Homo sapiens: one gene and its partners. The protein of the gene in region 1 purifies or fractionates together with the protein of each later gene. This does not show direct contact. Each region holds a gene or a part of one and is shown in the gene's direction. Other genes may lie near its edges.

Region 1 (5,491 bases):
ATAGCTTCCTCCAAAAATAGTATGATGGCCTGAATCTAGATAATTTAAGGCCACTTTTGGTCTGATATTCTAGGATGATGGTTTATTATGGAGTAACTTTTAAAGAGAAAGTTAAATAGTGCTTTTGAACCAGTATTTAACTTGGGATTCTTAAACACCAAGGGCTCGACAACGTAATTTAGAATCATAAACTTTTTAACTCAGCATAAGCCAAACATTTAAGCACAGAATCCCCCACTTTATTTATTTATTTCCATAGCATCTGTTAATGTAAATGTATTTTGGGAAACTGAGTTCTCATTTGAAATTCAGAGAGATTAAATCACTTGCTGAATGAATATTGGGCTGTACTGTATTAAATTACTGATATTAGACTTGTTGACTTACAAAAGGCCCTTCCATGTGGTTCAGCCTAATGTCGTATGATTGCTTACTACAAGCCTAGAGTCCTAACTTCCGGTTTAGTTCACTTTGAAGATTCAACTTGTGAGGATGTGTTTATACTATCACCATCATCAGTATCAGCTACCAATGCACATTGATTGAGTGCTTATTTTGGGTATAGCTCAGTATTGGCTCTAGAGTTTTGTTTTGTTTTGCTTTGTTTTTAAGGTATAAGATGAAATCTGCTCAAAACAAGTGACCTGCTGGGTTTACTGTAGAGACACCAAGTTTCATGAATTTCAAGTGGAGAAGGAGATTAGTCTTCCAGTGTATGTTAATAGTTAGTAGGTCTTATTAAAAAAGAAAACGGGCCCTTTGGTTGTTAATGTGTGAGAAATGTTGGTTTAAAAATTAAGTTACTGAGTGGCTTCTTGTACTAAATCAATGTTAATGAGGTTTTGCTGTGCCTGGTTTGCTTTTCCCTTTTTCTCTAACCTGTACTTTTTAAGCTCACTCCATTAGGGATTTCCTCTAATACTTTTGGTGAGTTCAACCATTAGAAACACAATAAAGTTGTATCACTATCCAACTCAGTTCTTGCCGTAGACCTTCTTTGAAATAAAATGTCTGAAGCTGTTCTGAAAAAATTTTAGTGACTGACTTCATGTATTACATTGAGATGTATTTTCTCATTACTGTTATTTTCTTATGGCTCTTTGAATACTTGATAAATGATATGATTTTAAAATGTGTTTGATATATTTATAGGATGGAAGATGCTAATTCTGAAAAGAGTATAAATGAAGAAAATGGAGAAGTATCAGAAGACCAGTCTCAAAATAAGCACAGTCGTCACAAAAAAAAGAAGCATAAACACAGAAGTAAACATAAGAAACATAAACATTCCTCAGAAGAAGACAAGGATAAAAAACATAAACATAAGCATAAACATAAGAAACACAAAAGAAAAGAGATTATTGATGCTTCTGATAAAGAGGGTATGTCTCCAGCAAAAAGAACTAAACTTGATGATTTAGCTTTGCTAGAAGACTTGGAAAAACAGAGAGCCTTGATTAAGGCCGAACTTGATAATGAGTTAATGGAAGGAAAGGTCCAGTCTGGTATGGGGCTCATTTTGCAAGGTTATGAGTCTGGCTCTGAAGAAGAGGGGGAAATTCATGAAAAGGCAAGAAATGGAAATAGGTCTAGTACTAGATCTTCAAGTACAAAGGGGAAACTTGAACTTGTGGACAATAAAATTACTACAAAGAAACGAAGTAAAAGCAGATCCAAAGAACGGACTAGACATAGGTCTGATAAAAAGAAAAGTAAGGGGGGTATTGAAATCGTTAAAGAGAAAACAACTAGGAGCAAGTCAAAGGAGAGGAAAAAATCTAAAAGCCCATCCAAAAGAAGTAAGTCTCAAGATCAAGCAAGGAAATCAAAATCCCCTACCCTTAGAAGGCGATCTCAAGAGAAAATTGGTAAGGCCAGATCTCCTACTGATGATAAGGTTAAAATTGAAGATAAAAGTAAATCAAAAGATAGGAAAAAATCCCCAATTATAAATGAAAGTAGAAGTCGCGATCGAGGTAAAAAATCCAGATCCCCAGTTGATTTAAGAGGTAAATCCAAAGACAGAAGGTCACGGTCCAAAGAGAGAAAATCAAAACGGTCTGAAACTGATAAAGAAAAGAAGCCAATTAAATCTCCCTCTAAAGATGCTTCATCTGGGAAAGAAAATAGGTCACCCAGCAGAAGACCTGGTCGTAGTCCTAAAAGAAGAAGTTTGTCTCCAAAACCACGTGATAAATCAAGAAGAAGCAGGTCTCCACTTTTGAATGATAGAAGATCTAAGCAGAGCAAATCCCCCTCGCGGACACTGTCTCCTGGGAGAAGAGCCAAGAGCCGATCCTTAGAAAGAAAACGACGAGAACCAGAGAGGAGACGACTTTCTTCTCCAAGGTAACTTGTGTACAAAATGTTAAAGCTTTTTACCAGTGCATGAGATTTTAAACGGAAAACTAGAACTTGTGGACCATTAAAAATGAAGTAGTAAGTAAAAATAAAAATAAATGAAGTAGTAATGAGTTTCATAATTTTAAGTAACCCAATCCATTAACCATGTTAATATTTGCACTTTTTTCGATGAGTATTTTAAGTATAGGTGTTTAACAAATACTGAGCTTGATGATAGAATTGGGTTTTTTCACATTCTTGATTTAATACCTAGTTTGCTAAGGCACTCCTTTCAATCCATGTAATTTGGCTGATAAATCTTCATTGGGGGCGTTTAGAGAGAGGATTATTACTTCATGAACAGTGTAGGCTGAAACTCTTAACTTTGAAAAGGGGGAAAGGTAATCAGTTTAACAATTGTGTTCTGTTCATTCTCTTGTATTTGCATGAGTTTTAAATTTTAACAGTATAAATAGAAACCAATACCAATATTTTTTGGTCCCCAAAGTATAATTAAAATGGAAAATTTTGTATTAATACATATAATCTCATTGTTGAAAAGTAGTATCTCTTAAGCTTAAGAAGAATAGTATATGAAATTATTTTGTACTATTTGAATAATATATTGTCTTAGTTCTTATAAATCCTCATGTGATTATCTTAACTCATGAGGTGAAGGGGCTCTCATACCTAATTTATAAATGAAATAGAATCAGAGAATGTATATAATTTACGTAGGATCATAGAACGGAAGTATTTGCGGGGAGGAGTGTTTATACCACTTAAACTACTTTAGAAACAGATTTCTTAATGTCTTTTTTGTATTTAGTATTTAAGTATTATGAAATTGCCAGCTAGGTTTTGCTTATTAAAAGAGTATTGGCTTATACTATATAAGGATGTTATTAATTCCTAGCCGTTTACTGTGTTCATAATAATATTTTCTGTGAATGGGTATAAATATAAACTCACCCTGAAAGTGAAGTCATCATATTTTCAGAGAAATTTCAAATTTTATTTCCAAGTGCTGTGTCTTAAGAGCGTCTTGATTCTTTACTTCTGAGTGGCACTGTAATGAAATAGCCCCTTTTTCCTTTGGCTTCCTGGATTGAGGCAGTGATTAGTTTTACTGATTCTGTTATCTCAAGTGCTTCTTAATTATCTTGGTGGTCTTTCAGTTTGCTTTGTTTGAAGAGCAAATTCTGAGGAGTTTATTAAGGACTAGAGCTGAGTATTTGAAACAAAAATATTTTTTTAAATTACAGAAGTGATGCATACTTACTTATTAAAGAGAAATCCAAATAAGCCTGTAAATTGTCTCCCTTTTCATTTCTCCACTACCACTCCTTAGAAATTTACTTTATCTTAGGTCTTTCCTTGTACAGACAATAACATGAATATAAGGGAATTTTTTTTTTTAACAAAACTGGAGTCATATTATTCATATTCACATGTGGCTTGCTTTTTTCAGGAAACATTTCTGCGACAAAACATATAGATTGTTTTTCATTCTGCCTGACAGCAACTGGTATTTCAGTGTAGATGTATTATAGTATCATTCTCCTATTGAAACTGATGAAAAATTTAGGTTGGTTCCAGTTTTTCACTATTATATGCGAAGATGTGCCTTGGTTATATGTGAGGTTTCTTTATAGAATAGACTCATAGAAGTGGACTTGCAAAGTCTCAGAGTATGTACATTTACATTGTAGAAAGTTATTGCTAAATTTCCATCCAGGAAAGTTAGGTCAATTTCTACTTCTACTTCTATGACTATGTGAACTGCCCCTTTTCCTGAAACTGTATTAGGAAAGTTTAGGAAAACCTTTATTACCAGGATACCATATAGTATTTTGTCACTCTTAAAAACAGAACAAAAAACCCAAAAATTGTTTTAATCGAAATTTCTTAGGTGACTAGTGAGGGTGAACATTTTTATTTTCTTTATTTTTATTTATTTATTTTATTTTATTTTATTTTTTGAGATGGGGTCTTGCTCTGTTGCCAGGCTGGAGTGCAGTGGCGTGGTCTCGGCTCACTGCAACCTCTGCCTCCTGGGTTCAAGCGATTCTCCTGCCTCAGCCTCCCAAGTAGCTGGGATTACAGACACGCACCACCATGCCCAGCTAATTTTTGTATTTTTAGTAGAGACAGGGTTTCACCATGTTGGCCAGGCTGGTCTTGAACTTCTGACCTCGTGATCCGCCCACCTCGGCCTCCCAAAGTGTTGGGATTACAGGCCTGAGCCACTGTTTATTTTCATTGCATTTTAGCAGACAACACTCTGTTCTTTTTATACTAGTTTACTTTATCCCATCCATTTATATATACATATATATACACATATATGTGTGTTGTTTTTGTTTTGTTTTGTTTTGTTTTTTTGAGATGGAGTCTCGCTCTGTCGCCCAGGCTGGAGTGCAGTGGTGTGATCTTGGCTCACTGCAACCTCTGCCTCCTGGGTTCAAGCAATTCTCCTGCCTCAGCTTCCCCGAGTAGCTGGGACTACAGGTGTGCGCCACCACGCCCGGCTAATTTTTTTTTTTTTTTTTTTTTTTTTTTTTTTTTGATATTTTTAGCAGAGATGAGGTTTCCCCACGTTGGCCAGGCTGGTCTCGAACTCTTGACCTCAGGTTATCTGCCTGCCTTGGCCTCCCAAAGTGTTGGGATTACAGGCGTGAGCCACCGCACCCAGCCCATTTATATTTTTTAACTGGTCTTTTGAGGCTGTGCGTGTATGTGAGCAGATTAAATAAAAGAGTTTCCTCAGATGGCCCTATCAAGAAGTAAGCACTACCAAGAAGTAAGCACTACAGATCTGAATCAAAGTCTACCTTGCTCATTTTGGCTGGATCAGAGAAGGATTCTTGGGTTCTGTATACCGTGCTGAAACATGCAAGGCAGGTTGTGTTTTTAGGTTTTTATTAAATGAGGAAGGCAAGTTGCAGTGGCTCACGCCTGTGTTCCAGCACTTTGGGGAGGCTGAGACGGGTGGATCACCTGAGGTCAGGAGTTCGAGACTAGCTTGACCGACATGGAGAAATCCTGTCTCTACTAAAAATATAAAATTAGCTGGACGTGGTTGCTCATGCCTGTAATCCCAGCTACTCAAGGCTGAGGCGGGAGAATCTCTTGAAGCCGGGAGACA
Region 2 (5,165 bases), about 40 Mb from region 1:
ACAATAACAAATAACACAAATAAAAATACAATGTACCAACTATTTATATAGCATTTACATTGTATTAGGTATTATAAGTAACCTAGAGATGATTTAAAGTACATGGGAGGATGTGCATACGTTATATGCAAATACGATGCCGTTTTATATCAGGGAGTTGAGTATCTGCAGGGAGTTGAGTATTGGTCCTGGAACCAATCCCCGGTGGATACTTAGGGACAACTGTATGTCTTGTCTCTCACCTAGATTGTAAAATCCTTGGGGGTGGGAACCATGTCTTATGTGATAACACCTTACCTATCAGGAATAGCTGTCTGGCAGCATCACCGTTCTGCAACACACCAATATACAGGAAATAGGCAACCAGGAAAAAAAAAGACTTTGAATAATTAAAATATAGGTTGCTGCAAAATCTGTGGATCTTATTCCTAGGAGAATCTCTTAGGCCTCACTCAGGAACTTACTCATGTTTAGATGTGATTTCAAAAGTGTGGTGTTTGGTTTCCAAACAAAATGTAAAAGGAGGAACTATTTAATAAAGTGTGTACATTTGTAATAATGACAGTGATAGTGATGTGAGAACCAACAGCTTGATAGGGAGGGAGGAGACAAATATACACAAAACTCAAAGAGTCATCTGGGGTCATTGAGTGTGGTGGCCCACCTCCCTGCCCACTGCATGTTCTTAGTCGCCCTAATGTGCCAAGAAAAGGTTGAAATAATGTTTAGTGGACGTAGTTTAGGAAGGCAAGAAAATATCAAATGTAGTGATTATTGTAAGTCAGTAAAATAAAAATACCATGCTAGCTAGACCAAACATTGATTTTAACCTAGAGATCCTAACAAAACCAGCTGGACAGAATTTTGAAATCTTTATTCTTTTTTTTTTCTATATTTCCTGTGAAATAATTTATGTGAAAAACATTTGAAAGCACAATCCAAATGTAAGTGGCACTTCTGTTAATTGGGATTCCTGTCTTTCTAGGACTCCTTCTAATGGAGCTGAAGGGCTGACTCCCCGGAGTGGAACAACTCCCAAACCAGTTATTAACTCTACTCCGGGTAGAACTCCTCTTCGAGACAAGTTAAACATTAATCCCGAGGATGGAATGGCAGACTATAGTGATCCCTCTTACGTGAAGCAGATGGTAAATGTCAATTCCCTTTTAATACTCTTAAATTTTTTTTTAATATCTCATGGATGCCAAATTAAAATTTCTCCTGTTAGTGCATATCACATATACCTTAAGAATCTATACACCTGTGGATGCCAGAAAAAGAATTATTTGTAAGACTTGATGAAAGGGAATATTTTGGGCTCAAAACCCACCTTTCTTTATGCTTACTAGGTTTGTGAATATTGATGTTCGTTGTTGATTTCACTGAAGTTTTCTTTAGCAAGCTGAGGTAGAAAGCTAACTGTAAAAAGTTAAGTTTTGCTTCTGCCCGTGTTACTGCGTTTATTACTTTGCTATTGGGCCTTATTATCTAATGCCACAGAAATCATTGTGAAATTAAAAAAAAAACTTCTAATGATACTGGCTTGTCTTCAGTTTAAAATTAATTCTAACCTCATGTATATATTTGGTTGATTTATATATGTTTTTTAAAGTTCAAATTGATATCAACTAAAGCCAACTCTGAATGGATACATAAGAATTAAATAGATTAAGAACCTCATGCATGCAGAGCATGCATTTGGACATTTGAGGGGATCTAAAGTTGAATAAAGATGTCCTTTGTCCTAAGGAAATTTATATTCTGGGGAGATTGACAGTACTAAACTAAGTCCAAAAATAATTGCAATATCAGAACAGAATAAGCCCTTTGAGTAAAACCAGTGTGCTTAGGGTAGTTAAAGAAGGGAATAGTCACATTTGTTGGGTAACAGGAAAGCCTTATTAGAGGAGCTATGTTCTGAAGGAGGGTGGGGGCTGTCTCAGATGGAGACTACAATATGAGTAAGCATGGAGGATGTTTTAGATATAGCAACTCATCTGTTCCTCACACCTGGTACATGTAAGCACTGAGGATGGATGGGAAAACTCTGGGTACCAGGAGGCTTTTTTGGGAACCAGGACTCTACTTTCTTTCTTCTGCATGGGATTTAGTATTTCCATTAAAAATAAACACATACATACAAATTCAAGTATCTTTTAGAGTGGATTTTATTAGTCCAAGGACAAACTAACTTTTGAACCTGTTCTTTTCATTTGCTGTTAACTTTCGGTGTCAGAAATGTGTTCCCTCAAAGTGGTCTTTTTTTCTGCCCTGGCCTCAGACCTCCTGTTGGAATATCCCAGAGTATCTTCAGTGATCACAAGTGAAAGTTTTTGGTTGGTCTTAATGTTGGGAAGAAGGGGGGATAGAAAATAAACATAAGACTTGTCTTAGCTCTGAAGTCAGGATTATTTTTCTAGAATTAATATTAGGCTGATTTTTTTTGAGACTTTTTTTCTCTTTCTGTAATTTTTAATTTTTGTGGATACATAGTAGGTGTGTATATTTATGGGGTACATGAGATATCTTGATACAGGCATGCATGTGTAATAATCATATCGTGGAAAATGGGGTATTCATCCCCTCAAGCATTTAACCTTTGTGTTTGAAACCATCCAATTATTCTTAGTTATTTTAAAATGTACAGTTATTTTGACTAGAGTCACCCTGTTGTGCTATCAATTTTTAAGAGACTCATAAAATACTGGTGGAATGTTTAATATGCATGAATTGAGAAGGACCACTTCTTTTCTACAGGAAAGAGAATCCCGAGAACATCTCCGTTTAGGGTTGTTGGGCCTTCCTGCCCCTAAGAATGATTTTGAAATTGTTCTACCAGAAAATGCCGAGAAGGAGCTGGAAGAACGTGAAATAGATGATACTTACATTGAAGATGCTGCTGATGTGGATGCTCGAAAGCAGGTGGGTAACTGTACTGAAAGAAGCGTGAGTTTGGCTGAATGTGTCAGTAGGCTGGAAGAATGAAGAATAGCCATTAAATGTCCCAAGATCTCTACCTAGTCCTTTTTAATATTGAAAAAACTTCTAAAGTAAATAACTTATGTCATTAATAATGTATCCTCACATAATTAACATACTCACAATATTTTGATGAGCATTCTTAAAAATATATATATGGAAATTTAAATACATTCTGTCAAATTCATTATGCTTCTCTAAAATACACATAGGTAGTCTTTTAGACATTGCTTCAATCTAGCAAAGAAAAGATGTTATTGGTTAGTCTTAAAAACAAATACATCTTGGTTCCTGGGTGGTGCGATGTACGAGCCTGTAGTCTCAGCTGCTCGAGAGGCTGAGGTGGGAGGATTCTTTGGGCCCAGGAGTTTGAATCCAGTCCGGGGAACATAGTAAGACCTCTATCTAAACTGGAGTTGGAAATTTAGATAGAGTGTGTCAAAATAATATTAGTAACACTTTGTACTAATATATCTTATACGTAATTACTTTCTCATTTGCACGTAACAGCACAGTGATATAAATAGGATCGGTATTACAGGTTGAACATTGCTAATCCAAAAATCCAACACCTGAAATGCTCCAAAATTCAAAACTTTTTGAGTGCCGACATGAAGCTCAAAAGAAATGCTCATTGAAGCTTTTTGGATTAGAGTTAGTATAATGCAGATGTTCCAGAATCTGAAAAAATCAGAAATCCAAGATACTCTGGGCCCAGATATTTCTAGTAAGGAATACTCAACAAGCTCAGATGAATTGAGGTCTCATGGTCTCAACTTTCTCAGGTCTCATGGTGGGTAAGTGGTGAATCCTAAACTAGAACTGATATTTTATGACCCCTTTCAGTAGCTGCAGTCCATTGCTGGATGATTTTAGGGACCTTGAATCTCAGGGGATTGGAGTGAGAATGACATCAGTGGAAACAATATTTTAGAGGGGACCCATGTAAATGTGCTTTTCAGTGGGGAACAGAGGATGATACTTTTTGTGTTTAGTTCTCAGCTACTTTGAGTTACATTTACTCCTTCAGAAATGGCATGAAATTTTAATGTGTTATCCCACATTATTCATAAGAATCAGGAAACAATACATTTTTTGGCTGGCTTTTTGAGTTAAAAGTCAGTAATTTTGGAGTGAAAGGGAAGAAAGAGTTTTGTCGTGGGAGTCTCTTTGGAGTTTAGGTTTTCCATTTAGATGAGAAAAGTTTGTTACGTGATATGGATCCATGCAAGTTTGGAGAATGCTCTAGTAGACATTGGAAGCTCTTAGTTTCTATTATAATGAGAGTGAATAGACTGATTCATTTCTGTTGCCTTAGCATTGCCTTTCTACAAACTTAAACCGATTTCTAAACTTTAGCTATTGAACACACATGATCTTACATACCAAAGTGTTTTTAGCTTTACTGAGAGATATCAAATACGCTATAGCTGCAATAAAGGATATAAAAATCATTTTTTAGGCCATACGAGATGCAGAGCGTGTAAAGGAAATGAAACGAATGCATAAAGCTGTCCAGAAAGATCTGCCAAGACCATCAGAAGTAAGTGTTAGAATTTCTGGTTTAGGAAGTTTTAAGTTTCTTTTTATATGATTGCTGCGTTTTACATCATTCATAAAGACTATAAAACAAAATTTCATCTACTTTCTGGAATATAGCAAAGTAGTTCTCAAATCCAATCTTTAAAATGTTTCAGTAGTACCAGAAAGAATTTAGAAGGAAAAAAATGGAAATTGCTTTTGAAAATGTAAAACCGCTGTTTAATTCATGCTGTAACAGGTAATAACATTAATATATTATAGTGATATGTTTGGTAATTGTATTTGTTTTAAAATTTTAGGTAAATGAAACTATTCTAAGACCCTTAAATGTAGAACCGCCTTTAACAGATTTACAGAAAAGTGAAGAACTAATCAAAAAAGAAATGATCACAATGCTTCATTATGACCTTCTACATCACCCTTATGAACCATCTGGAAATAAAAAAGGCAAAACTGTAGGGTTTGGTACCAATAATTCAGAGCACATTACCTATCTGGAACATAATCCTTATGAAAAGTTCTCCAAAGAAGAGCTGAAAAAGGTATGATTGAGCTGGAATATTTCTTCTTGAGATTTAGGTAGTTGTTAGGTGCTGTGTATCATGGACAAATAATGAACTTATTTTTCCCTGTTGGTATTCATA
Region 3 (5,918 bases), on another chromosome or scaffold:
GTATCTAAAGTCCTTAAAAACATCCATGAATGATCCTTTTCAACAGTACTTGGAAGGAAGTCAGGGACTTCACCATTAAAACTGAGCCAACACAGTAATGAAATTCAATGACCACCACAGGAGACATATGAATGCCTCAGGGAAGAACAAAGGCCAGCAAAATCAGCCAACAGCAGTTACTTCCACAAAATGCATTTACCTGAATAGGAACTTGAATGGTTTTCAAGGAATGACAGTCTCCTTCCAGAAAGTGTCATGTGTTTGTTATTCGTCCAGTAACACTAAGAATCTAAATTTAAATTTTGGTTTAGTTTGGGATTGGTGCTGGATTTTAGGGAATAATCTTATCAGGGCTGGATTATTCTAGTTAGTGATGATCTGAGGAAACACTGCATTTCTTCAGATGGAAGAAGGGAGCACTGGCAGCTTGCTTTTTCTGAAAGCTTTGATTACAGAAGTATAGGTCCCTGATGCTTAAAGGGACCTTACAGCACATCTGATTCAACTGCCTTTTATAGGTGAAGAACTGATTCCTGTTAACCTGATAACATAGAAATTGCCTATCCTATTTTGTGAAAATCATCCTACTCTAGAAGTAGGAAATAATGGAGTAGGAACCTGGGCACTAAATTATAGTTGTTATATTATTAGGACTAAGTGTGTATGTCCACGGGCCTGACAGAAATGAATGCTCTGGACCCCATCCACTTGCCTTTCATTTGTTCCTGTGCCCTTTTTTCATACAAAGTGGATGGCCTCTTTAGGTTTCCTTTAGGAAATGTGTAAGTGCCTACAGGCCTTTGTGCTCACATTAAAATAATTTTTTTTGTTTTTATTTTTTGGAAAAATAACTTAAAGTCTGCTCAGAGACAGCTCAATTTCTTTATTTTAAAAATGGGATAAGACACACTATTTTTAGATGGCATTTGTGACTATCCAAATGAACAATGTAAAGTACTTTCAAAAATAGTGCTTTGTCAAAGAAACAAGTTATTCTATTTACTTTATGTATGCATTCCATTTATTTCTTCAGCAAATATTTATGAAGCACTTACTAGCATGATCACAATTTCAGTTAAATAGTTAAGTACAGTAGTCCCCCCTTTATCCATGGGTTCATTTTCCACATAATTATTCAATTTAATTATTAGTTATTGTTAATCTTTCACTGTGCCTAATTTATAAATTTAACTTTATCATATATATGTATAGGTAAAAACATAATACACATACATAGGTTTCAGTACTATCCATGGTTTGAGTCATCCACTGGGGATCTTAAAACATATCCCCTTGGATTAAAGGGAAATACTGTAATTAATTGCTTACTGCCTGTATCAGTCACTAGAATTCCAGCTTTCTGGGAAAAGGTACTTCTTCTCTTTTGTTCTCTAATGCTCAGCACCCTGCGTGGCTGGCATTTAAAAGACTAACAAATATTTGTTGAATGGATGGATGAATGCATGAATGAAAAACCAAATGAATAATGAAAACAAAAGTGTATAATACACTATAACACGTACTATATTGGGCTTGCGTAGTACTATGGGAATCTATAGTAGGAGCATTTAAAGCCAGCCTTGACGGGGCTAATCTCCGGAAGAGCAATTAATCTTTTCAAAATCCGACTCTTGCAGGATACGGTCCCCCACTGGCCTGCCACTAGTTTAAAACGAATTAGTTTCTGTGAAACATCAGGATCGTGCCAATAGTAGGGGACCAATAAGACTGAATAAGTCAAAGGGCTGCGCGGACAAGTCCAATTAGAACACCTCTGGCTAAAAGCCAGAATGAATGAAAGGGTTCATGCCTCGGCGTAGACACACAACTGGGACTGAAAAATCTGCCCCAAGCCTCCACGTCGACTTTGGCTCCACCTGCAGCGGCGGCGCCGTAGTCACGTGACCCGGGCCCCCGCGCCCTAGGCGCCTGGGCCAGCCTGCGCCTGCGCAGTACTCGGAGACAGCGGACCCGTGTCAGTGACAGCTTCCGGTTTGGTTTCTCCGCCTTCTGCTTGGCTAGAGCTATTGGGGCTCGGTGGCGGCCGCAGTGGGGTGGAGGGGGCAGGGCGTGGTGAGGTAAGGTGAGTGCCGTAGTGGGGTTCCCTGGAGCCATGGCCTGCTCCATTGTCCAGTTCTGCTACTTCCAGGACCTCCAGGCCGCCCGGGACTTCCTCTTTCCTCACCTGCGGGAGGAGATCCTCAGCGGCGCCTTGCGGAGGGACCCCAGTAAGTGCCTCTCTGGCCTCGCCCTTCCTTCCCTCGTCACCCGCGGCCTCTGCTCACGGGTTCGAGTCTCCTACTCGCTCTGCGCCTCCTGCCTCTGCCCTCTGGACCCCCAGTTCTCCCCGTGCCTCCCCTCCGCTCCGGGATGACACCCTGCCCACCTCGTCCTGAAGCCCCATTTGTGTTGTCTTCCTCTCGACCCAGCTTTTCTCCTTAGGCCCTCTGACCCCTGGCTAAAAACTGCGTCTTGTTTCCTCTCGCCTCTGCCTATCACCGCTTTCTCCCTCCCTCCCCCCACCCCCACACATTCCTAGCTTTCTCTCTGAGTATCTTCTCCGTCTCCCATCTTCAGCCTGGGGTCGTTCCCTGTTTCATGTTGCCTGCTCCGTGATCGCATCCTCCCCGTTCCTTGCCACATGTCAGCGCTCCACTCTGGTATTGCCCCAGCTCCCACTCTCTTCCATCCCGGAGACTGTGGCCTTCTGCTACCTCCCATTCCGAAAGTGTTGATCATCCCCCCACACTCTCCCTTCTTTCATCTGCATTTCCCCCATTCAGATTTTGAGAACAAATGGCTGACAAATGAGTGACTCTTGAGGTAAGACTCTCTCAAAGAAGGAAAATAACCTGTCAGGAAGTGAACGAGAATCTACATTAGGAACTAAAATTACAGTGACATAGCCAAGAAAGGTTAATTTGCTTTATTGAAGCCTTCCACCTATTTTTATCATCAAAGTGTTTAATAAGCCTTTCCCCAAGTAGTATAAAGTTCCAAGGCTGGTTTATTAGATACTATATAGGCTTTCAGAATTTCGTACATTTCATTTTGAAAGGGTGTGCCTTGTGTTTTATTTTATTTTATTTTATTTTATTTTATTTTTGCATTTCCAACCTGAAGCACATTTGGCTTTGTAGTACAGCGCTCTCACTTTGTGCTATACCGGAATGGTGATATAAAGCCCACTAAGCTCCTCTCCCTTTTTTAGAAAATTTAGAAGATATCAAATCGAACCCATCTGTGAATGATTGCATACTTTGTGCCAGTCATTGGTGCTACAAACCAAATAAGGTTGGTGGACCCTGCTGTAGGAACTTCTGGTTTACAGACAAATCATTAACTTCCATTCAGTGTGACTGAGATATACATGAGGCATTTTCTTGAAGTGGTGATACTTAAGCCTACCTTTGAAGTACTAGTTAGAGGAGTAAAGGAGCAGTAATAGCATGTGCAGAGGAAGGGAGGCCTGAAATGGCATGGTATTTAGAGAACTAAGAAAAGCTGAATGGCTGGAGAGGAGGATGGGAGAGGAAGAGTTGGGGCAATGAGGCAGTAGTAGTAATAAGGAGCTAGACCATGAGAGGCCTTGTGAAAATTGTGGCGTTTCTCTGAAAGTTTAAGTAGAGAAATGACATTGTCAGATTTGTACTTAATGTAATCAACAACATTTGTTGAAGACCTGTAATGTGCTCTGGTAGCAAAGTGGAGGAGAGATTGGAAGAAGGGAAATGGATTGGGAAGCTCTTCCAGTAATCCAAGCAAGAAATTATGTGAGCTTGAATTAAGAACCTTAGTAGGATGAAGATGAAGGACTAGATTAGAAAGACGTTAAGGAGTTAGAATCTGCAGGACCTTGTGAAGGTCTGGTGATGGGCATTGTAACTAGTAAGTGAGGGGGAGTTTAGGAAGTCTTTGGCTTGTGGTTTGGGCAACTATATGTAATAAGAGAATGAAGGATACAGATTTTCAACCTTTTGCATTTTAAATGTTTATGGTATGTCCAAGTAAGGACATCTGGTTGAACACCAGATATAGATAGTCTAAACAGTAGGGAGTACTGGGCCAGAGATGTTAATTGGGGAGCTAACAGCAAAAAGTGTCAGTTCAGTCTCAAGGATTATGTATGTTGTGAAATGCACTGAGTACTAAAGCTGTAAGCTTAGAGGAGCACTGGTGTTTAAAAGTCAAGTAGAGGTTACTGGGAAGAAGACTGAGAAGGAGTAAAAGAAAGAGGAAAATCATGTGAGAGTAAGGCCCTCGGAGCTGAGGAAGGCGAGAACTTGATGAGGGTGAGGAATGGTCAGCAGTTTTGCAAATGCAGCAGGGGTCAGGTAAGAAAAGGATAGAAAAATGCTTATTGGTTTTGAGAAGGTGGAGGTAACTTGGACCTTAGGACAGTTTCAGTAGGATAGTGGAGGCAGAAAGCATAGTTATAGGATAAGGGGTTAAAAAGTGAAATATACTATTTCAAGGAGCTTGGCTGTGAAGGATAGCAGATGCAGGATTGTAGATAGGGAATGTAGAAAAAAGGAACAGATTTTCTTTATCCTTCTACCACTCTCCTGGTCCAGGCCACCATCTTTTCTCAACCTGGGCTATGATATGATATGTGTCTTCTTCTAGCAATTCTTCCTGCTTTTGCTCTTGGTTTCCTGTAATAATTCTCAACAGTAGTTACAGTGAGCTTTTAAGGCATAATTTAGATCACAACATTGCCTTTTTTTTTGAGATGAAGTCTCACTCTGTTGCCCAAGCTGGAGTGCAGTGGCATGATCTCAGCTTACTACAACCTCCACCTCCTGGGTTCAAGTAATTCTTCTGCCTCAGCCTCCTGAGTAGCTGGGACTACAGGCATGCGCCACCATGCCCGGCTAATGTTTGTATTTTTAGTAGAGATGGGGTTTCACTATGTTGGCCAGGCTGGTCTTGAACTCCTGACCTTGCGATCCACCTGCCTTGGCCTCCCAAAGTGCTGGGATTACAGTCATGAGCCACCACACCCAGCCTAACATTGCCCTTTTAATAACACTCAATGGTTTTTGATTGCACTTAACGTAAAATCCAAAGTTCTTAAATGGTGTATAAGGCCCTTGAGACTCTGCTTCCTGCCATTTCTTGGACCTTATACACCTCTCCCCTTATTTCTTATGCTTCAGACGCTCTTTTTTGTTGTTAAACCAGCCAACCACATTTGTGGCTAAGGTTTTTGCCCTCACTGTTGTCTATGCCTTGGATGCTTTTTGCAGATCTTTGCATGCTAGTTGCATCTTGTCATTCAAGTCTCAGCTCAAATGTCAACTCAGGGCAGCCTTTTCTGACCACCTGATCTAGATCTAAAGTAGTCAATACAACCCCCTTGTTCCTACTTGTTGTTCTCAATCATATCATCCTGTTTATTTTCATCATTATATTTCTACTGTCCAGTATGGTAACCTCTAGGCACATGTGGTTATTGAGCCTGTGAAATGTGGCCAGTGCAACTGAGGAACTGAATTTTTAAAATTCAAGTTAATTTTAATTAATTTAAATTTAAGTAGCCAAAGTGGCTAATGCCTATAATATAGTATGGCACAGTTATAGGTGCTAAAACTCAGGTACATACAGATTGAATACTTGTCCAAGTTACATAGGCAGTTGGGGATATAAATACACCCCAAACATCTAGATTAATTTGCACTATACCTATAGATTTATAAATATGGTTTAATGTATTTCTCTTCTAAATCAAATTCTTGAGTTTATGTATGTTGATATTATTGTGGCTATGATCAGTTCATGTAGAAAATGAACAGAATGGACCTCTTCACCAGTGAGCCCCTTTGTAAAACCTGTACAGATGATCTCAGACTTATGATGGTTTGGCTTCCAATTTTTTAGCTTTACAGTAATGTGAAAGCAATGTGTACTTTGTAGAA
Region 4 (5,165 bases), on another chromosome or scaffold:
GGAAGACGCCTGACTTTAGAAGACCTAGAAGATTCATGGGATCGTGGCATTCCTCGAATCAATACCCTCTTCCAGAAGGACCGGCACACACTGGCTTATGATAAGGGCTGGCGTGTCAGAACTGACTTTAAGCAGTATCAGGTATGTAGAGGGAGCAGATTTTCCCTGAGTCAGGAAAATCCATGGCTATCCCCGAAACTTGGGGCAATAGGCACCCAGAAGCTTGACCGTGCCTGCCTTGCCATCTAGGTTTTGAAGCAGAATCCGTTCTGGTGGACACACCAGCGGCATGATGGGAAGCTCTGGAACCTGAACAACTACCGTACAGACATGATCCAGGCCCTGGGCGGTGTGGAAGGCATTCTGGAACACACACTCTTTAAGGGCACTTACTTCCCTACCTGGGAGGGGCTTTTCTGGTGAGGATTCTCCTCTCTTAGAGGGACCTGTCACAACCCTTTGAGCTCATCTCTTGTATGCCTCTGTGATTTCCTGTGGTGTTTCCCAGACAGCCACCTCCAGGAGGTTAGCAGTGTGCTGGGAAATGGCAGGATATCACCTCACCTGCTTCTCTTGCTCCCCAGGGAGAAGGCCAGTGGCTTTGAGGAATCTATGAAGTGGAAGAAGCTAACTAATGCTCAGCGATCAGGACTGAACCAGATTCCCAATCGTAGATTCACCCTCTGGTGGTCCCCGACCATTAATCGAGCCAATGTGAGTGTGATTGACACTGGAGAGGGGAAGCTAAAGACAGTTGCTGCTTCTTGCCTTGGTTATGTCGTGAGCGCCCGAGTCTCTTGATCTCTAATGTCACATTGTCGTTTTCCTGGCAGGTATATGTAGGCTTTCAGGTGCAGCTAGACCTGACGGGTATCTTCATGCACGGCAAGATCCCCACGCTGAAGATCTCTCTCATCCAGATCTTCCGAGCTCACTTGTGGCAGAAGATCCATGAGAGCATTGTTATGGACTTATGTCAGGTGGGCTGGAATCGAGGGGAGAGGGTACTGTAGAGAGTCAGCTCAGGTGGAATTGAGGGGAGAGGGTACTGTACAGAGTCAGCTCAGGTGGAATCGAGGGGAGAGGGTACTGTACAGAGTCAGCTCAGGTGGAATCGTGGGGAGAGGGTACTGTAGAGAGTCAGCTCAGGTGGAATCGCAGGGAGAGGGTGCTGTACAGAGTCAGCTTAGGTGGAATCGCGGGGAGAGGGTGCTGTACAGAGTCAGCTCAGGTGGAATCGCGGGGAGAGCGTGCTGTACAGAGTCAGCTCAGCTTGCTCTTTTGCATATGGGAAATCCACCCTGGAAGCTCTGAGGATGAGACTCCTATTGCCTCATTATCTTATTGTACAAACTCTGATTTTAATTGGGCTTCCTTAACAAGTCTTAATCTCTCCATGTTTTCCTTCAGGTGTTTGACCAGGAACTTGATGCACTGGAAATTGAGACAGTACAAAAGGAGACAATCCATCCCCGAAAGTCATATAAGATGAACTCTTCCTGTGCAGATATCCTGCTCTTTGCCTCCTATAAGTGGAATGTCTCCCGGCCCTCATTGCTGGCTGACTCCAAGTAAGTGCCTCAGGACCCAGCCCTAGGCAGCCAGGACACTTTCGTTTTCCTGTTCTTCTAGCCCTGCAACTTTAGGAATTGTCCTGTCTGCCTTTGTTTCAAACTTGGAGCCAGTGCTACGCTTGGAGCCTGTCAACACCCTTAGTCAGATCTGCTGATTCTCTGGGGTCCTGCTGACCTGGAACAAGTTGGTGGAGTGGGTGGGATGGTTTTGGGATTTAAGTGGTTCTGGTTCTGGGGACATTGGTTATGCCCATGGTTTCTTAGAAGCTTGAACCCTCTTCATCCTCAGGGATGTGATGGACAGCACCACCACCCAGAAATACTGGATTGACATCCAGTTGCGCTGGGGGGACTATGATTCCCACGACATTGAGCGCTACGCCCGGGCCAAGTTCCTGGACTACACCACCGACAACATGAGTATCTACCCTTCGCCCACAGGTGTACTCATCGCCATTGACCTGGCCTATAACTTGCACAGGTGAGTTGAGGCTCAGGACCATGTATTTTCAGGCCAGGCGCAGTGGCTCACACCTGTAATCCCAGCACTTTGGGAGGCCGCGGTGGGCAGATTGTCTGAGCTCAGGAGTTTGAGACCAGTCTGGGCAACATGGTGAAACCCTGTCTCTACCAAAATACAAAAAATTAGCTGGGCGTGGTGGTCCACGCCTGTAGTCCCAGCTACTCAGAAGGTTGAGGTGGGAGAATTACTTGAACCCGGGAGGCGGAGCTTGCAGTGAACCGAGATTGCGCCACTGCACTCCAGCCTGGGCGACAGAGTGAGACTCCATCTCAAAGAAAAATAATAATAATAATAAATAAATAAATAATCCGTGTATTTTCCATTAGCTCCATACTTTAACGTAGTCATACTTTTTTACTTTACCTAAGTGAGAGGAAGTGGCCCATTCCTCCTATGGGTCACTGATTCTCTTCTCCAGCCTGTATGTACACATGAGCAGAGTGTTGTCAGCCTGGCGAACAGTCTTTCTTCCTCTGTAGAGTTGGCAGCTTGTCTTGTTTCTGGGGCTGTCATTCTCGTCTTAACTTTTCTTGACCCTTTTATCCTCACAGTGCCTATGGAAACTGGTTCCCAGGCAGCAAGCCTCTCATACAACAGGCCATGGCCAAGATCATGAAGGCAAACCCTGCCCTGTATGTGTTACGTGAACGGATCCGCAAGGGGCTACAGCTCTATTCATCTGAACCCACTGAGCCTTATTTGTCTTCTCAGAACTATGGTGAGCTCTTCTCCAACCAGATTATCTGGTTTGTGGATGACACCAACGTCTACAGAGTGACTATTCACAAGGTGAGTGTTAGCAGCAGTGTATAGGTGCGGGACTCTGTACATGGCTGTGGGAGAGTAATGGGCTAAGTGTGTACACATGCTGGGAAGAAGGCAGGATGGGGATGTGTTGTGTAGGCCATGCTAACGAATGCCGTCCTCCTCTAGACCTTTGAAGGGAACTTGACAACCAAGCCCATCAACGGAGCCATCTTCATCTTCAACCCACGCACAGGGCAGCTGTTCCTCAAGATAATCCACACGTCCGTGTGGGCGGGACAGAAGCGTTTGGGGCAGGTGAGCAGGTTTAAAGATGAAGAGGCTGTAGAACCATGTTGCCTCTTATTCTTGGGGTGGACTTGGTAATATTTACTGGTTTATTAGATGAAAGGCTGAGAACATCTCATTTGAACTTATCCCCAAAATACCTTGGGAAGTATTCTGTGGGAGGTCCAAGAGTGTATGAGGTGCTTCGTTCCCTTCCAGCTGGTCTGTTTCCTGAATTTCTAACCTTGAACAGGGCTATCAAAAATCATTTTTCCAAAGGCAACGCATACTCTTTTTTTTTTTTTTTTTTTTTAGCCGGAGTCTCGCTGTGTGGCCCAGGCTGGAGCACAGTGGCTCAATCTCGGTTCACTGCAAGCTCCGCCTCCCGGGTTCACGCCATTCTCCTGCCTTAGCCTCCCGAGTAGCTGGGACTACAGGCGCCCGCCACCACGCCTGGCTAATTTTTTTTGTATTTTTTAGTAGAGACAGGGTTTCAACGTGTTAGCCAGGATGGTCTCGATCTCCTGACTTTGTGATCTGCCTGCCTCTGCCTCTGCCTCCCAAAGTGCTCGGATTACAGGTGTGAGCCACTGCTCCTGGCCAGCAATGCATATTCTCTTTTTTTTTTTTTTTTTTTGAGACGGAGTCTTGCTCTGTTGCCCAGGCTGGAATGCAGTGGCCTGATTTCAGCTCACTGCAAGCTCCGCCTCCCAGGTTCACGCCATTCTCCTGCCTCAGCCTCCCGAGTAGCTGGGACTACAGGTGCCCGCCACCACGCCCGGCTAAATTTTTTGTATTTTTAGTAGAGACGGGGTTTCACCATGTTGGCCAGGATGGTCTCAATCTCCTGACCTCGTGATCCGCCCGCCTTGGCCTCTCAAAGTGCTGGGATTACAGGCTTGAGCCACCGTGCCCGGCCCAGCAACGCATATTCTTGAAACATCCACTTTGACCAAATCTCTTCTCTACCTCACAACTCTTGCTGAATTAACTCTTCTTTAGCTTCCTAGACGTTCAACATCTGGCTGGGCTGTATCTGTCCAGCCAGTTTCTCTTCCTTTACATTTATAGCATGTTTCATCTTACATTCAGTCCAGGATCTTAGTAGCCCAAACCCCTGATGCTCATCTCCAAATCTGTGTTTTGCTTGTATTTTTCTTTCTAGAATGAACTCCCCTCTTTGCTCTGTTAATCACAGTCCCTCCTTAAGACACGTTTTTTTGTGCAGCTTTTTTCTGATCCTAGTAGCCTTAATTTCTTTTGTTCCTGAACTCTGTAAAACAGTGTATAGTTTAGCACATACTCATGTGTCAGCTTGTGGTATTGTCTTGTTGAAAGGGGCTGTCAGCCTGGTCATTGGACACGGCCATTTGATACTCTTTGTACCTTCTAAGTGCCTAACATTTAACATCAGTGTTCAATAGAAACGTAGTTGGATTATTTCAAAACTAGGATATTCTGTTCTAGTTGATCTGGGAGGGTAGAGACTAAATTTCCATTTTCTTCTCTCTTGCTTTTAAGTTGGCTAAGTGGAAGACAGCTGAGGAGGTGGCCGCCCTGATCCGATCTCTGCCTGTGGAGGAGCAGCCCAAGCAGATCATTGTCACCAGGAAGGGCATGCTGGACCCACTGGAGGTAAGAGGGTGGGGTGGGGTAGGAGAAAAGAGACCTTGAGACCTTCAGGCTGTTTCTCATCTTGGACTTGATCTTGTCTTAGGTGCACTTACTGGACTTCCCCAATATTGTCATCAAAGGATCGGAGCTCCAACTCCCTTTCCAGGCGTGTCTCAAGGTGGAAAAATTCGGGGATCTCATCCTTAAAGCCACTGAGCCCCAGATGGTTCTCTTCAACCTCTATGACGACTGGCTCAAGACTATTTCATCTTACACGGTATGAACCTCGGGAAGAGAAGATCGCTGGAGGAGGAGCGGGTTTAGGGTTAGGAGAAGATCCTGTGTCAGGTTTTTGCCATTTTCACATTTTTAGCCTATAGATTGGGTGGGAACTCTGTTGACTTTCATGAGAGTTTAAGACC

Evidence for each region. The genes of interacting proteins can lie anywhere in the genome.
Region 2: the proteins of PRP4K (region 1) and CDC5L purify together in Homo sapiens (affinity purification with mass spectrometry; 2 studies listed by BioGRID and IntAct, with this or other methods). This does not show direct contact.
Region 3: the proteins of PRP4K (region 1) and RAB3GAP2 fractionate together in Homo sapiens (co-fractionation; one large-scale study listed by BioGRID). This does not show direct contact.
Region 4: the proteins of PRP4K (region 1) and PRPF8 purify together in Homo sapiens (affinity purification with mass spectrometry; 4 studies listed by BioGRID and IntAct, with this or other methods). This does not show direct contact.

What each region holds. Positions count from the first base shown.
Region 1 is NC_000006.12:4,030,407-4,035,897, forward strand, and holds part of PRP4K (serine/threonine-protein kinase PRP4 homolog), read left to right. Parts: intron 1-1,152; coding exon 1,153-2,349; intron 2,350-5,491. UniProt on the Homo sapiens protein: Serine/threonine kinase involved in spliceosomal assembly as well as mitosis and signaling regulation. Connects chromatin mediated regulation of transcription and pre-mRNA splicing.
Region 2 is NC_000006.12:44,421,662-44,426,826, forward strand, and holds part of CDC5L (cell division cycle 5-like protein), read left to right. Parts: intron 1-985; coding exon 986-1,148; intron 1,149-2,757; coding exon 2,758-2,922; intron 2,923-4,441; coding exon 4,442-4,522; intron 4,523-4,820; coding exon 4,821-5,063; intron 5,064-5,165.
Region 3 is NC_000001.11:220,268,533-220,274,450, reverse strand, and holds the start of RAB3GAP2 (rab3 GTPase-activating protein non-catalytic subunit), read left to right. Parts: upstream 1-1,997; 5' UTR 1,998-2,113; coding exon 2,114-2,228; intron 2,229-5,918. UniProt on the Homo sapiens protein: Regulatory subunit of the Rab3 GTPase-activating (Rab3GAP) complex composed of RAB3GAP1 and RAB3GAP2, which has GTPase-activating protein (GAP) activity towards various Rab3 subfamily members (RAB3A, RAB3B, RAB3C and RAB3D), RAB5A and RAB43, and guanine nucleotide exchange factor (GEF) activity towards RAB18.
Region 4 is NC_000017.11:1,656,247-1,661,411, reverse strand, and holds part of PRPF8 (pre-mRNA-processing-splicing factor 8), read left to right. Parts: intron 1-5; coding exon 6-141; intron 142-249; coding exon 250-419; intron 420-584; coding exon 585-714; intron 715-833; coding exon 834-980; intron 981-1,410; coding exon 1,411-1,571; intron 1,572-1,863; coding exon 1,864-2,055; intron 2,056-2,648; coding exon 2,649-2,886; intron 2,887-3,030; coding exon 3,031-3,159; intron 3,160-4,650; coding exon 4,651-4,764; intron 4,765-4,846; coding exon 4,847-5,020; intron 5,021-5,165. UniProt on the Homo sapiens protein: Plays a role in pre-mRNA splicing as core component of precatalytic, catalytic and postcatalytic spliceosomal complexes, both of the predominant U2-type spliceosome and the minor U12-type spliceosome.